Regions from separate parts of the Homo sapiens genome. Here region 1 is linked to region 2. Evidence: fine-mapped expression QTL. Tissue or cell type: fibroblasts. Region 2 holds a variant in brackets; the other region holds the start of a gene. All regions are shown on one strand. Distances are from middle to middle.

Region 1 (8,103 bases), 410 kb before region 2:
AGCTTGGAGAACTAAGCCTGGAAAACAAGAGCAAGGTCATTGCCAAACTCATAGCACAGAACTGGACTTGTGAAGACACCACTGCTGCAGTTGGGCGCTGAGGGCCTCGGGGCCTGCACCGTCCCTGCCAGCCAGGGACCCTGGCCGCTGCTGCTGCTGCCCTTGAAACTGCCGACCGACACCCTTCTCCTCTGGCCTGTTTCCTTCACCTGCTCCCACTGTAAGGGCTGGGTTGGTGCACCTGAGTTGCTGAATGGAGCTCACAGGCCTTCACTCTCACTTCCAGGCAGGCTGGGGAGTGGGCACAGGGCATTTCCAAATTCTGCAGTCAATGCGGTTCTTCCTTCTATCAACATTCATAAGGCCGGTATGCGTTATAGGGTTTTTATTACAAACTACAGAGCTTCCTCTCGGTCATATAAGCAGAAAGGTTCTTATTATAGGACATTAACACACAGAATCTCAGGGAGGACAAGAGATGCAGCTTTGGAAACTATATAGCCAAGAACAGCACAGTGACCGCAGGCCACCCCTTGGTGCAATTTTAACAAAGCCACCACTCTGCCCCAGCGTGGGCACCAAGTACACTCAGGACCAGACCAGAGAAGCTCCATCACAGCCTCCCCAGAAAAACTAGATGCTGCTGCTTCTGCCTTCGCTGAAAGAAAGTTCCCGCTCACACAGCTGTGGCTTTGGGCTGCCCATCCCCATTCCCAAATCCCTGGCGAGTATGCCCAATTGGCAGAGCCCGTGCACCTGGCCAGCATTAAGGAAGCCTGGGCAACATGTTGTTTGTGGATTCTACTGTGAGAAGGTAGAACTCAAAACAGTAGTAGTTCTCAAACAGTGAGAACTATCAAAATAGAAGATGTTGAAAGGATGTTGTGTATCTCTGAAGCAGAACTTCATCACTGCCAGATGGAATTTTCTCTTCTTCTCTACTCTACTCTTCTCTTCTCTTCTCTTCTCTTCTCTTCTCTTCTCTTTTCTCTTCTCTTCTCTTCTCTTTTCTTTTCTTTCTTTTGACAGAGTCTTGCTCTGTTGCCCAGGCTGCGAGTGCAGTGGCATGATCTTGGCTTACTGCAACCTCTGCCTCCCGGGTTCAAGCAATTCTCCTGCTTCAGCTTCCCAAGTAGCTGGGATTACAGGTGTGTGCCACCACGCCCAGATAAGTTTCGTATTTTTAATAGAGACGGGGTTTCCCCATGTTGGCCAGGCTGGTCTCCAACTCTTAACCTCAGGTGATCCACCCACCTCAGCCTCCCAAAGTGCTGTGATTACAGGTGTGAGCCACCATGCCCGGCTGGAATTTTCTGTATGTAAGAAAAGGTTATAGATGTTAGGAAGCTGGAAAATGACAAATAAGAAAAACGGCAAGTAGCCACCACCACTATTCCCAATCTCATTCTTCTCACTGCTCCAGAAGCCACCAGCCACTACCATTTGAATTCATTATTCCACTAAAATGGAAGATCCTTGACGGCCCCTATATTTGTCTGATTTATTTAACAATTGATCCCAAGTGCCTAGAACAGTGCCTGGCACATAGAAGATGCTTGATACATATTTGCTGATGGAATGAAAGACGCTCGTTCATTTGCCGCATTGAAAAAAAGACAAAACTTCAAGTGGTTTGTAGGTTTAGAAAACTGCCAGAGGTAGCTTTACTTTGAACTCCATGAGTATCTACAGTAGAGAGAAGCAGCAGTGTAAAGTCCTCCCTCCCAACCCCTAGTGGTTAAACAGATTTTATAAAATAGGGTTTGACAATCAAGGACTAGCAGGAAGTTGCAGAAGGCACAGGAATGGCAGAAAACCCAAAATAAACCTTAATGAGGTCAGTGTACATTCATTATGAATTTAGTGATTGAAATCAGGTGTAATTTATAAATTTTCACTACTACATTAGCCATCTTTTATGATTCATGCTATCACCTAAAACATATTTCATAAATATTAAAATTAGAAGACATAGGGGTTAGGATTTACATTTCAAAAAGCCACCCAGTTCCCATAGCCCTGCTGGGTAAGCCCTTATCTCTCTGTACCTTAGTAGCAGAAAACACAGGAGAAGCACGACCATGAAAAAGGGCAAAGTGCAGTGAAATGCAATTGAGACCTTTAATCTTTGCCTAAGCAATTCAGCCAGAAAGCTCTGTAACTCACAAGGCATTATAAAAATATTCCACACCAGAGCTATTTACAAGTTAACTGCTCCTGAATAAATAAAAGTCCATGTGATAGCTTCATGGCTTTCTCTTAACCAAAGAGGAAAGTAAAACTCATATTTCTATGTTTTTAAATTTTTCTTCTCAAAAGGGGGCTTTATGAAATCTAGTTCTGTAGGTATGTCGTTCCTCTACACTTTACTGCTTGTATAAATATACTTACGTATTCATAAGCAATACTGTGCTAGATGCAGAATTCAGATGCAGGCAACAGAAATCACTGTAGTTATTTTAAATAGAAACAGAAGAAAGGGATTTAAGATGAGAGACTGCAAGCCTACACAATCTTTGAACGGAATGGAGGAGTGAGCTCCAGACTGAGCCTTTAGGAAGGACTCCCAGAAAACACCACCATAGAACTAGAAGCTGCTATCTCTGCCTCAATCAGCAGGCCACCGCTAGAAACACGAACATATGGTTTGGCTGGGAGCCAAGGATCTGGAAGCAACTCCGTGGTCTCGGGACTGAGCCACTGAGTCAATGGGGATGCCAGTTTGTAAGATAGGGAACACACTAGGAGGAACAGGCGTGGGAAGTAGAAATGCAGAGAGAGTTCTGTTTTAGCCATGATAAATTTGAGATGCCTGTTAGACACTCAAGAGAAGATGTTCAGTAAGAAGTTGGATATTGACGTTGAGTAAGATGTTGAGTAAGAAGTTGGCAAGTCTGGAGCCCAAAGGAAACTCTAAGTTGGAGATTTAATTTCTTTCTTTTTTTTTTTTGGAGGTAGAGTCTTGCTGTGTCACCCAGGCTGGATGGAGTGCAGTGGCACAATCATGGCTCACTGCAGCCTCCACTTCCTGGGCTAAAGTGATCGTCCCACCTCAGCCTCCTGAATAGCAGAGACTACTGGCATGCACCACCATGCCTAGCTAATATTTTATTTTTATTTTTTATAGAGAGAATGTCTTGCTTTGTTGCCCAGGCTTGTCTCAAACTCCTGGCCTCAAGCAATTCTCCCACCTCAGCCCCAAAGTGCTGGGATTACAGGTGTGTGCCACCATGCCCAATCTGGAGATTTAACAGGTTTCATACTATATAGGTCAGGCTGCAATTTTCTTTCTATTTTTTAAAATTCAATTATACCTTTGAGATCAACTAACTTCATGAGAAACTAGCTTGCTGTACTCCCTTCTCTGCCTATCTTTCAGTCTTCAAATCCAGAGTAATCCAGTTTCTACCATAAAGGGCCCACAAAAAGTGTTCTGAAACATCCGGTGTCATCCAAGTCCAAAATTGGACAGCTTTTTTTTCAGTTCTTCCTGTAACATTTGGCAGTGTTGGCCACTCTCTGCTTCTTTGGCAAGAATCTCAGAAAACACTAATAACTGCTCCAGGCAGGAGCCTGGAAGAGGTTACCAAGCTAGAGAAGGAAGCAACAGCATAGCTTGCTAAGGGCAAACAGCCCAGAGGAAACCCACGGCTCTGGTCAATCCTGTTGTTGATTGCTAGATCCAGAGACTGTTGTAGACCTCCCAGTTACAGTGAGGTATCTGACAACCCCTCACAAGGTTCTTGAAGCTCCGTGGTGGAGGGTATCTTGGATAAATCCACAGAGACACATTCAAGAGTAAATTCTCCACTGTTGGAGACCTCACTCACTCTGTTTGGTCTCCACCAAAGACACGGTTTTTAATTCATGGAGCTGCACTACAACAGCTCAAGAACTCCCAGCCAAAGTTTTAGTTTTTCTAGGAACATAAACGAGCCAATAGTGTGGAAATCGGTGATTAAAAACAAACCTCGCACATTTTAAGACAGAATTATTACAAGTAGCATGTACAAAAGGAAAATAATAGCCTACATTTAGTTCTTCTAAGCTTCATTCCACAAGAGATTGAAATCGAAGTATTCTGGGCTGGCACACGATAGCTGGAACATCATATTTTATTCTAGAAACACATTTGCCTTGGCAAAGAAGAGCGTGCCTAGAGGAGTGGTCAGGATAGTGAGGGATCTGTGATCCTTCGTTCTGAATCTAGAAAAGTCACTGGATATGCCCCTCCCCCGCCCCCCAACACGGTCTTATGTTCTGAATGTAGAAGTCACTGGATGTGCTGACACACACACACACACACACACACACACACACACACACACACACACACACACACAGAGTCTGTGGCCTCTTTCCCAGGCATTCCAAGTCCAGCAAGTTCGCAGGGAGCTGTCAGTCCGTCCAGGAAGGCCCGGGCCTGGGTTTGCCTCTTCAAGCAGCTACTGCAGGGGCGTGGGGAGGGGGCATAAGAGACTTTGGACTTTCCTTTGAGACAGTAGAAAGCGTTACATCCAGAGGCGAGATTCTAGCCTGGGGTCCCCGCCTTCCCGGCCTCCTCTTCCTCTCCCTCTGACTCCCTTTCCTGTGCCCCTCCCCCTGCCTCTTTCCCGGCCAGAGTCCAGCCTTAACCCGGGCAGAGGGCGGAGTCCCGTTAAGGGGGTGTGGGGAGGAGGCGGGGCCAGGGCAGGGGCGGGGCAGAGCCGGGCCAAGCTGGGCGGGTCATGCGCCCTGGCCTTCGCGCATCTCCCAGGTTAGCTGCGTGTCCGGGTGCTAGGCTGCAGACCCGCCGCCATGACGCTGCGCGCGGCCGTCTTCGACCTTGACGGGGTGCTGGCGCTGCCAGCGGTGTTCGGCGTCCTCGGCCGCACGGAGGAGGCCCTGGCGCTGCCCAGGTAAGGGGGCCCAGCGCCGCCGCCGCAGTGGGTCGGGGCCTCAGGAGGCAGACCGCGCTGGGCTTGCAGCCCAGCTTTCAGATTGCTCCTGTGCCGGAGCCCTGCGAATCATGCGAATCATGAAACTGAAGACCTGGCCCTGAAGTCCCAGTGCATATGAGGAGATCCGTTGTCTTTCTAAATGTTCATAATTAAACGTTGCCAAGGTCTCCAAAATTGCTTTCTGTGAACTTTTCCAAAAGGGAGAGGAGTTACTCATGGAGCTTTGTGCTTCTGCTGCCTCCTGTCTAATGGGGTGGCGCTTAAAGATGCGAGCCGAGATTCAGGAGAGAAGAAAGTTCTCTCCCCAGGTGTGGGTTGCATGCTTACTTGTGTAATAGCAAACTGCAGCAACCGCCCAAAGCCACATCACTGGGAAATGGTAGATGGGGTGTGCAGAGTGAGAGCTCAGGGACTTGGGAAAACACCTGTTCTACTACATGAAAAAACCACCCCACCAGAATCTGAAGCTATTTATACAATATGGTTTCAGCTATGGAAAAAAGGTACATGCAGAAAAGTGCCTGAAAGAAATAGGCCAAAGTACATCAAATGAGATTAGGAATAATGTAATGATTTTCTTTCTCTCTCTCTTTTTTTTGTGTTTTTTTTTTTTGTAGTTTCCAACTTCTAAATTTATAAACAATGTATTATTCCCACATTCAGAAAGGAGAGAAGTATACTTATTTATAAAGTGAAAAAGAAGGCCAGGCATGGAAGCCATTGTTCATATCCTCCTTTTACATATGAGGAAACTGAGGCACAGAAAGAAACCAGCTGTCCAAATCACATAGCTGTTAAAGAGCAGAGCCAGAAATCCAACCCCAGTAGTCCATGTCCGGAGCCTTTGCTTTTAATATAGTAAGGAAGATGAGATGGCAAGTAGCTTGAGGGAAAGGCATGTAATCTCTGTGCTTTGGGAAGCTAAGGTGGGAGGATCACTTGAGGCTGAGAGTTCAAGACCAGCCTGGGTGAAAGAGCAAGACCCTGTCTCTCCAAAAATAAAAATAAAATTAGCTAGACATTAGTGCATGCATGTAGCCCCAGCTACTTGGGAGGCTAAGGCAGAAGGATTGCCTGAGCCCAGGAGTTGGAGGCTATAGTTGTGTCCAGAGTTGGTTCCTGTCGGTGGGTTCGTGGTCTTGCTGACTTCAAGAATGGAGCTGTGGACCTTCGCAGTGAGTGTTACACTCGTAAAGATGGCGCAGACCCAAAGAGTGAGTGATAGCAAGGTTTATCGTGAACAGCGAAAGCACAAAGCTTCCACAGCATGGAAGGGGACCCCAGCAGGTTGCCGCTACTGGCTGGGGTGGCCAGCTTTTATTCCCTTATTGTCCTCTCCCATGTTCCATTTCTGTCCTATCAGAGTGCCCTTTTTTCAATCCTCCCCGTGATTGGCTACTTTTAGAATGCTGCTGATTGTGCGTTTTACAGAGCGCTGATTGGTGCATTTTACAATTCTCTTGTAAGACAGGAAAGTTCCCCAAGTCCCCACTCGACCTAGGAAGTCCAGCTGGCCTCACCTCTCAATCCTCCCTCATAACAGGACACCCCACCTGCTACTGGGAACTGGGTGATGACCACTCTAGCTACTTCCTGCTGGATAGGGGCAAAGAAGGGGCCCTGCCGTTGTAGTGTCCTCCAGAGGGGAACTCTCTAGGCCAGTCAAAGGGCCAGTGGGTCAGTCTAGCAGTCCTCGGTAGAAGTTGTGAGTTAAGCTCATTTGGGGTTCCATTTGTAAGACCATCTGTAGCTTGATGGCCTTGATCCTGGAGGAAACAAATTTGAGGAGGAGGTTAAAAATACAGGGACTGAAGGTGAGTAATAGCAAGATGGCTGTCACGGGACCTAGAAAGGGGAGAAGCCAAGTCACCCAACTCCAGAGGTTGGTATAAGAATTTGAAAGGTGTTGTCTGGTTTCAGAAGCCTTTTCCTGTAAATGCCAGGCAGCATCCTGTACTATCCCTGACTGGTTAGTTTAAAAACAACACTCCTCCCCTAAGAAGGTGCAAAGTCCTCCTTTCTCAGCAGTGAGGAGGTCTAGACCTTAGCGGTTTTGGAGAGTCACTGTTGCCAAATAGTCTATTTGGGATTGTAGAGTAAGGATAGATTTATTTATTGCAAACTGTCTGAGAAATCCTTTGAGAGTGTATGGTAGTAGGATAATGAAGTAGTTAAACTGGCTATTCTGGTTCCTGTAGCAGTGGGCATTCCTAGCCCTATAAGTAGGGGTATTAGTTGTATGGTCCTGGGCTGACAGACTTGAGCTTTGAGGGGCACTGATAGGGTCTGATTTCCTGTGGCATTGTTAGTGTTGGGACTTAGGAGAAGGTGCAGGTGCCTGTCCAGCTGGTGGGAGGCAGATATAGGTTGAAGTTCCACATAAGAAGAATATGCCTTGGCTGGGTAGAATAAACTGGTTGTGTATGTTAAAAAGGTGTGTGAGTTTGTTTTCATTTTCCCACACTCCTAGAGTACTTGCCAAGGTAGCTCTGGTGAGCAGCTGGAAAGGGTGTTGGGAGCAGACTGAGTGGCTCCCTGTGCTCTATTTTCCCATTGGAGAAAAAACCGTTTTGTATCTACTAGGAACCATCCAAGAGAGTAATTGAAAGAGGGGATAAGAAGACATACACTAGTGGTGGGGGCGCTGCTGCAGGGGGTCCAGGGGTGAATGGTCATGCAGGGAGTATGTTTGCCATTACAAAACCCAGACTGTTTGTTAAACAGGGAGGAGGTGATGATTTTGGGGGGCCCTGAGAAGCAGACAAGCCATCTGAATGGAGGTGTTTGGGTGACTCAGGAGTTACTATGATCAGTTGGGGCTTGAAGTTATAGGGTGTAATTACACTGATGGGATAGTAGGTGCCCCAGGGGCAGGCCTGATAACAGGTTGTGTTGGATGCATAAAAGGGCTTGGAAAGTTAAGATGGTATTCGGTATTCGTGGTCACAAGGTCTTGTATGGGCTTTTCCTGAGGATTGTGGCCTCCAGGCACAGTGAAGGTGATATTGTATCTCTAGTGCCCTGGAAACTCCCTGAGTTACCATGGCTTTAAAAGCCAGACCATTGTCACTTTGTAAGCTTTGGGGAAGCCCAAATCTAGGAATTACTTCATGAATTAGGACTTTAACCACTTCTTGAGCCTTCTCTGTCTTGCAGGACAAGG
Region 2 (8,103 bases):
AATCAGTCATGCTAATGTAATGAAAGCCCCATAAAAACCCAAAAGGACAGGGTTCAGAGAGGTGCAGTGCTGAACACAGAACACATCGAGGTACCTGGCGGGCGGCGTGCCCAGAGAGGGCAGGGAAGCTCTGCACCCCATCCCCATACCTGGCCCTCTGCATCTCTCCCATCCCTCTGTTCCCGAGTTGTGTCCTTTATAATAAACTGATGAACCTAACTTTTCCTGAGTTCTGTGAGTTGGGTTCTAGCAAATAATCAAACCCACGGAGGGGGTCTAAAGGGAATCTCTGACTTTCAGCCAGTTGCTTATATGTTCTGGAAGCTTGGATTTGAGATTTCATCTGAAGTCAGGGGCAGCCTGTGGGACTGAGCCCTTACCCTGTGGGGTCTTCACTAACTCCAGGTTGATTATGTCAGAATGGAATTGAATAGTGGGACACCCAGCTGGGGTTGGGGCATTGGTCAATGTGCAAAACACCTGCACAGTTGGGGTCACCAGTGTGGGAGTGAGCAGGGGAAATGAATCTTCATTTTCATTGCTCCACACCAGCTCTGCTCCTACAGAACTGCATAGAGTTGGGGTCGCATCTTCTCAGGAAATGTTTCTGAAAAACAGGATTTTCTCAAAGTGGAAGTGCAGACAAGAGAAGGAGCAGGAGCAGAAGAGAAACTTGGATTTGGAACGTGGCCTTTCCCGAGAGGAAGGGTCTGTCTACCACGCACGAGGCATTGGTCATGTGCAAAGGGCCACCAGGGACAGCCAAGGCTCCGCCATTACAATCCTATGGATGGCTTCCTAGTGCCCAGAGGCTCAAGCCTAAACTCCTGACCACTGCAATGCCCTTGGTTATCCCCACCTTCCTTTCCAGGCTTATTTTTTGTCTCTTACATCCCAAACCCTTGCCATGCTGTACTATTTGGGAGGATCAGACAACATTATGCTGTTTCAAGCATGGTTCTCTTTACCTGGGACACATTCAACTTCCACATCCACCTGGTGGACATGAACTTACTCTTTAAGACTTGGGTCAGCTGGCACGGTGGCTCATGCCTGTAATCCCAGTACTTTGAGAGGCCGAGGCAGGCAGATCACCTGAGGTCAGGAGTTCAAGACCAGCTTGGCCAACATGGTAAAAACCCATTTCTACTAAAAATACACAAATTAGCTGGGCATGATGGCATGCACCTGTAATCCCAGCTACTCTGGAGGCTGAGGCAGGAGAGTCACTTGAACCCAGGAGGCGGAGGTTGCAGTGAGCCGAGATCGTGCCACTGCACTCCAGCCTGGGTGACAGAGCAAGACTCCATCTAAAAAAAAAAAACCAAAAAAACAAAAAACAAACAAAAAAAGGTGCAGTCGCTGTGTCTCTCCATGCCTGAGATAAGGCTAACTTTTGGTGCTCCATTATCCTAAACAGATTCTCCCGGGCACCTGGTACAGCAAAGTCTAGGCACAGGGATGGGAGAAGGGAGTCCGAGGACTCCAAAGGATTCTGCCTCCTTGACTGTAAAACAGAGACAGAAACATCTCAGCAGCTGCAGGGAAAACTGTTTAGAAACTTCCTCCTCTGATTATTTATTCTGAGTTTACACTGCATGCTGGGGTGCCCACAGCTCCCCTCGTCCCCAGACTTACTTCCCTAAATACTGAAAACATGTACGAAGTGTTAAACATTTTTCAAGTGCTCTAAGCCATGAATGATAACCATCAACAAACTCTGGTTTAGAATTCACCCTGGTGTCATCTGCATATTTTTTTTCCATATGAAACCAAATTGAGAAAGATTTTTTAAACAATCTGAACTTATATCCTGCTTTAAATTCATGCTGTGGGACTTAAAAAAAACCTGAATTCTTCACCCACCCCTTAGTTGCAAAAACACTATTTATTTTTCCTGCAAATGGACCATCTACTAGGGTAAAACAAATGTATTTCTCTCTTGAGATATGTATACGTAGCGGGTTTTTTTTTTTTTTTTTTCCTGGCCAAACTCCCAAAAGCCAAACATGTCACGGAATGACTGATATTGCCCTTGACTGAAAAAAACCTTTATCTCTCAGCAAGCAGAAATCGGGACATCTGGATTCTAGACCCAATTTGGCCGTGACCTAGGCTGGGTGATTTTGGGGATTCCTCTCATCTCTCTGTTGTTGGTCTCTGTTCTGAAAACTGGTGGGGTGGGGTTGGGCGAGAGAGAGGAATGGGTCTGAAACCCATCCAACCCTAAAATCCTATGACTTCAGATCAAAACATGGGTAAACAATGGCAAGATTTTTGTTCTGAAAAATATTTTAATGTGGACTCAGATGGGTCCTGAGAAGCCTTCTGTGGCATGCCCTCCTCCAGGGAAAACCCCCAACTTCCACGTCCCTAGTGAGGGGTGTCGGTCATGTTTTCTCACCAGTCCCTTTTGCACAGTTACATCCCCATCTGCTGGAACTTCAGGTCTTTGCTGCTAACGGCACGGGCTTCAGAGGTGTTTGGGAAGGTTGAAAGGCCTCGGGGTTAGCAGAGGCCACCCTGGTTAGCGGCTCTTCCCGCACGATGTTGGCTTGTGGAGGAGGGTAGCTCTCCGGTGCTGCAAACGCTTTTTTCCCACCCCGTAGATCCTACGGTGGGGCTTCCCAGGGCGCAGGGAATGACTAAGAAACCCTCAGACATGGGCACCATGTCTGTCAGAATTTCCACACTTTTCTGAAAGCTGAGCCTTGGCTCTCCCCCACAGAGCCCGGGTCTCAGGGATATGGTTAATGCTTCTGGGACTGGAATTCCCTGGAAACATAAGCAGGAGGCTGAATACAGCTTGATGTTGTTGTGGTCAGAGCAAGCTGGTGGGCAGAGGCTGTGGGAAGACACCCCGCAATGGGACAGGCACAGACCTCAGCCCTGAATCGTGACAACTATTCCCCTCCAGCCCCAAGGTCCTTACATCTGCATCTGGAGCTACCAGTGAAAGAGGGGATTACTTGGGGTTTTAAGGAGCCCGGCCCTACTACCCAAGACCAGGGGCCGAAGCCCCCATCCCAGGGTCAGGAAGTCAGCGGCTGGGGATTTTGTTCAGCCTCAGCCCTGGCCTAAGGACGTGAGGAAGTCCGTCCTCCCCTATGGGCCTCTGAAAATGGGGAGATGGAGGCTGGCCTCCCAGTTTCTTTGTTCTACGATTCCTCTGGGTCTCCCAGAGTCCTCCTCATGTTGTGTAGAGCTTCCTGTTCATGGAGCTGTCTCTGCTCAGCCCCTTCACCTCCCAATTTCACTGCCTCTGGAGACTACTGGGGGTGGGGGTCTTGTCAGAGGGCAGGAAAGAAAAGTTCAGCGCTTTGTGCAAGCTTAGGCTCTGGGTTCTGTCTGAGTTCTGGGCTGCAATGAGGGTGTAGCTCTTCGAGGCAGGAAAGAAAGCCTCAGTCCCTGAGGGGAGGCTGTCCAGAGCTGATGTCACCTCTTGCTGTACAGTCAAGAGGCTCCAGGGCCAAGTGGAGGGGGTGGCCTCCCCCCACGCCTCCCCACCCATCCCCAGGGAGCCCCGCACCCCTGTGGCTCTGGCTCTCACCTCCCTGCACCGTAGCTCTGGCCTCAGGGCCCAACCCCAGTACAGAGCCCACCAGCCTGGCCCACAGGAGCAAGGTGAATAGAGACCACGCATCCTCCACAGCATGGGGAACGCCCTGCTGGCTCGACCTCCTCACTTGCTCTCTCAAGTCTGCTGAAAGAAGAGCCACCAGAGAATTCCCAACAAGAGCCCCTCTGGCATGCGGGCAGTGTTTCTGATCTCAAAGCCATCTTTCCACATAGTTCCTCCCTTCCTGCCCACCCCCATCAGGAGTTGTTTATTTCTCAGAACTAAATGCCACGATCCTTCTCAGCTACCTTGGCAGCATTCTGTCAGAAACCAGTCAACAAACAGAGCAGGGAAAAACAGCACCCCGAAGACAGCATTCAGGACCCAGCCCTTTAGACAAAAGGGATCAGATCAGGTCTACTAGATGGCC[T/C]CATTCAGTCAGACACACCCAGTTAAGCAGCCCTGGAAAGGGACTCTAGAGAATGCTAGAAGTACTGTGAAGCTCGCAGATGGCCTTGTGGACTTTAGCACTTCAGGTGAGGTGAGTGTGGGGGGTCCAGGATCAGCCTGGGCATTTCCTTGTTTTTCTACGGGCAAGTCCATCACTTTCAAGGACAAGGTGCTGTCACCTGCCTTGCTCCTATTTGATCCTGAATCATGCCTCAGGGAGGGGAGGGCAGGGCAGAGAGAAAGCAGGGGCAAGTTTAAGTGTCAGGGGGCCTTGGGGAGGCCTCTTTTTGGGAGTGAGGTCTCCTTCTGGTCCTGCACAGCTGGGACTAAAGTGTGATGTGAAGGGCCTACTGCACCATACCATCCTGAGTGTGCTTGATCTCATCTGAAGGACCTAGTGAGACCAAGGAAGCATGAAAATAGCAGACCATTCAGCTGTAGTTTACATCTCAGCTGATATGAGCAACTGAAGAGAAGGCAGTTGAAGTGTCTGATGTGTACTGCATGGCCAAGAGTAATCGTGTAATGATCTGGAGGATTAGGCAGGCACCAAGAAGTGAGCCAAAGTTTCATCATATAGAAATGTTAGATGGTGTGGGAAGATCAATGAATGAGTAATTAATAATTTTTATTAGCGGGTGTGTTTTGCAGGTCTTGGCCATTAGTGTTCTTCTAGTTGAAGCACAACAATAATTTTTCATGTCATTAGTCATGGTTATCGCCCATGTGGGAATAATGGCATATGCTCTATTTGTTTTAAGTGTCCTTTTGGTTGTAGGATTTGTAGGTTTCTCTTCGAAACCTTCTCCTATTTATGGAGGCCTATGGCTAATTATTAGTGGTGCTGTAGGTTGTGGTATTGCGTTGAATTTTGGTGGGGCTGATAGTCTTTGATTTATTTGGGTGTCATGAGACCCCTTTCTGTGTCCAGCTTGTGACTCTGCAGTGGCCCCTGTCCCTGAGTGTCCGGGGGGAAGCTATTAACACAGGGACTCTTTCCCCAGGCCCCATCCTCCCAGAGCCAAGACCGGAGCCTAGATGCCAGAGGCAGTGATATTCTGCTTGCGCCCTCACGTGGGACAGAGCCAACTAACACCACATGCTGGGTTTGGTGTTTTTTCTTTTGCTCCTTTTTAAACTTGGCTAGGAGACTCTGTTCATTCTTCTCTGGCAAGTCTCCAAGATTCTACATGTAGCCCTCTCTAGGGGAAAAGTAAACCTTAGAAGAGTGGCACAACTAAATAAGCTGATCCCCTTGTCAACATTCTAGCAAGGACCGCATCAGAAAGATGCCCATTACTAACAGGGTGGTCTGCCGGATCGCAAGCTCTCCAGCGTCACTCCTCCATCAGTGGCAAATGGGGAAAACAAAGGCGATGCCACTTTGTCTCTGCACCTTTCCCTGTGTAACACCCAGGGAGGGGAGGCCTTTAACAAGGTCAGTAGCTGAATTTGTGCAAGCACCTCTGATGATTTTAGGAAGCGTGTCTGAGTGGGTGTATTACACAGAATAATAATCACAAACAGGTACTGAGTCCTCACCAGGTGTCCAGCATGATCATAAGCACTTTACACAGATTAACTCATTCAATTTTCACAATGACCTTATAAGGTAAAGACTCCTGTTATCCCTATTTTATAGATGAGAACACTGAGGCACAGAGATTATACCAGCTGGGCTAGCGAGTGACCGGGGGAAGCCTCCAGATCCATGCACACAACCGCCAGGTTTATGACACCTCTAGAAATGTGGCCAGTGCCCCTGGGGTCTATCAGCATCTCTTGCTAGACCAGCAGAGCCCTAAAAAAGGTAGGGAGCCTCCTTTGACACTTGAGCCCCAGCCATGGCTCCAGCCTCTGAACCTCCAAACTTATGGGGCTGCTTGGGGGACAGCTAGCCCTGTGCCAACACCATATCCCACGGCCCCAGCAGAATGTCCTTACTGGCATCCCCAGCTCTGTCTCCTTTCTCTCCTTTCTCTCCTTTTGGGCCTCGGTCACCTAAAACAGAGGAGGAAACTGGCATTAGAAATGGAAAGAAATCCTAATTGTGAATAAAATATTACCTGCAGGAGATTGATGAACTCGAGACCAGAGAAACCCTCAGGCAGGAGCCAGCAGCAACTGGAGAGCCCAGCAGGCAGGAGAAGAGGGCAGCCAATTCTGCCATCTGCCCTGGGTACCCCAAGAAGGAGGAGGCATGAGTGAGAAAATCCCACCCGTTTGTAAAGAACCAAAGAGCACATGGAATTTTGCAGGAAGAAGACAAGTCAAAGATAGTCCTATTAAACACTCAAGGTTTTAGAGGTCCACATCCAAGTTTGTTCTAATGAGCCCAGGGGAAAACAAAGGAGAGGGGGCTTTAGTTAAATAGGGGGAGAGGCGGGTTCTATGTTGAGCAGGTTTTCTTGTGGGAGAGACCATAAAACATAAGTGTGAGATACCAGGGAATTGTGGCATTTCCTTCCCAGGATATGGCTAAAGAAGACCTGTTTGGCCAGCTGGCATCTCCCTCTACAAAGAAGTAGAAAATCCTGGCACCACTCACTGGACATTAAAATGACAAGGGACTTCTATTCCAAGGACCCCCAGAAAGACATCTGCCAATCAAAAGCCCATGGGCATGCTGTCTGGTGAAAAAATCAAGCCAGCAAATTCCAGGGGAGAATGCCCAGGATGATCCAAGATTTGGGGGGGGGAAAAAAAAAAGGCAGCCATATACATATATAGGAATATGCTCAGAAAAAGATCTGGCAGGGTGTGCTCCAAAGCATTGACAGTAGTTATTCTAAAGAATAAGAGCTGGGGGAACTGAGGGGTGGAGACTTTTTGCTTTATGCACTTCTGTGTTGTCTAATTTTCTTTTCTTTTCTTTTTTTTTTTTTTTTTGAGACAGGGTCTCACTCTGTCACCCAGGCCCAGGCGGGAGTGCAGTGGTGCAATCTTAGCTCACTGCAACTTCCACTCCCCGGGTTCAAGTGATTCTCCTGCCTCAGCTTCCCAAGTAGCTGGGATCACAGGTGTGCCCCAACATGCCTGGCTAAGTTTTGTATTTTTGGTAGAGATGGGGTTTTGCCATATTGGCCAGGCTGGTCTTGAACTCCTGGCCTCAAGTGATCTGCCTGCCTTGGCCTCCCAAAGCGCTAGGATTACAGGCATGAGCCACCTTGCCCAGTCTCTAATTTTATTTTCAACAAGCATGTGCTGCTTTTACAATCTGTTTTAAAATCAACTTTTTAAAATGGGATCATAAAAGGAAGGAAAACCTCAGCCTGTTTCATCACTGACCAGAAAGTAAAATAAAATTTCTCAGTGATCTAAGATCAAGAGATCACCCTAGACATGGAGTGGGAATGATTAGCAGTACTTTTTTCTTAGTTTTCATTTTAACAAGTGAGGAGTAGAAAGCCTGGGGAAAGAGCATCAGATGTCCTTGTCTTCCGCAGTGATGCTACGAGGCTTAGACAATCTTGAAGCGAGCATGAAAAGACAGACTGACTGTAAAAGTAGGTTCCCCTAACGTAAACAAGGGGACTGCCTACAGGAAGAAGAGCAAATCAGAAGGAACATTTTTGGCACTGTAAATCTGAGAATTGAATTAAAATTGTAAATCCTGGGGGAATAAAAGAGTATATAGAAGGTCAGGAGTCTGGCAGGACTAGGGAGGAGGGCTGTCCTGGGCCTGCAGCCCTGGTGTCTGCCCTGCAGGCCCCTTGTTGGCTTTCTCTGGTTACATCTCTGGGCTGCAACCTACCATAACACTCCCTTGCATTTCTACAGGGACTTTAGCATTTGCACACATACGTGCTTGCTCACTCCTCCTGACAGCCCTGTGAGATATAGTATCATGAGGATTTCTAGATTTTTGTGTGTGTGTTTTATTTTGTTTTAGAGATGAGCTCTTGCTCTGTCACCCAGGGTGGTGGCACAATCATAGCTCACTATAGCCTCCAACTCCTGGACTCAGGAGATCCTTCCCACTCATCCTCCCAAGTAGCTGGGACTACAGATAAGTGCCACCACACTTGGCTAATTATTTTATATTTTGTAGAGATGGGGCTCTTGGGCTCAAGCAATCCACCTGCCTGGTCCTC

Evidence for each region. PIP is the estimated chance that this variant, and not a neighbour inherited with it, causes the effect.
Region 1: it holds the start of EPHX2, and the variant in region 2 is fine-mapped to the expression of EPHX2 in fibroblasts (GTEx, PIP 0.93).

What each region holds. Positions count from the first base shown.
Region 1 is chr8:27,486,412-27,494,514 of GRCh38, forward strand. EPHX2 (epoxide hydrolase 2) reads left to right here and starts at 4,732. Exons shown (of 19, transcript NM_001979.6): 1 at 4,732-4,898. The coding sequence starts at 4,798. RefSeq lists a cis regulatory region at 2,475-2,789 and a silencer at 4,536-4,815.
Region 2 is chr8:27,898,825-27,906,927 of GRCh38, forward strand. It overlaps SCARA5 (scavenger receptor class A member 5), which reads right to left. Exons shown (of 9, transcript NM_173833.6): 7 at 5,954-6,010. It overlaps LOC105379342 (a long non-coding RNA gene), which reads left to right and starts at 3,849. Exons shown (of 2, transcript NR_188147.1): 1 at 3,849-4,100. The variant T/C (reference allele first, on the strand shown) is at 3,990.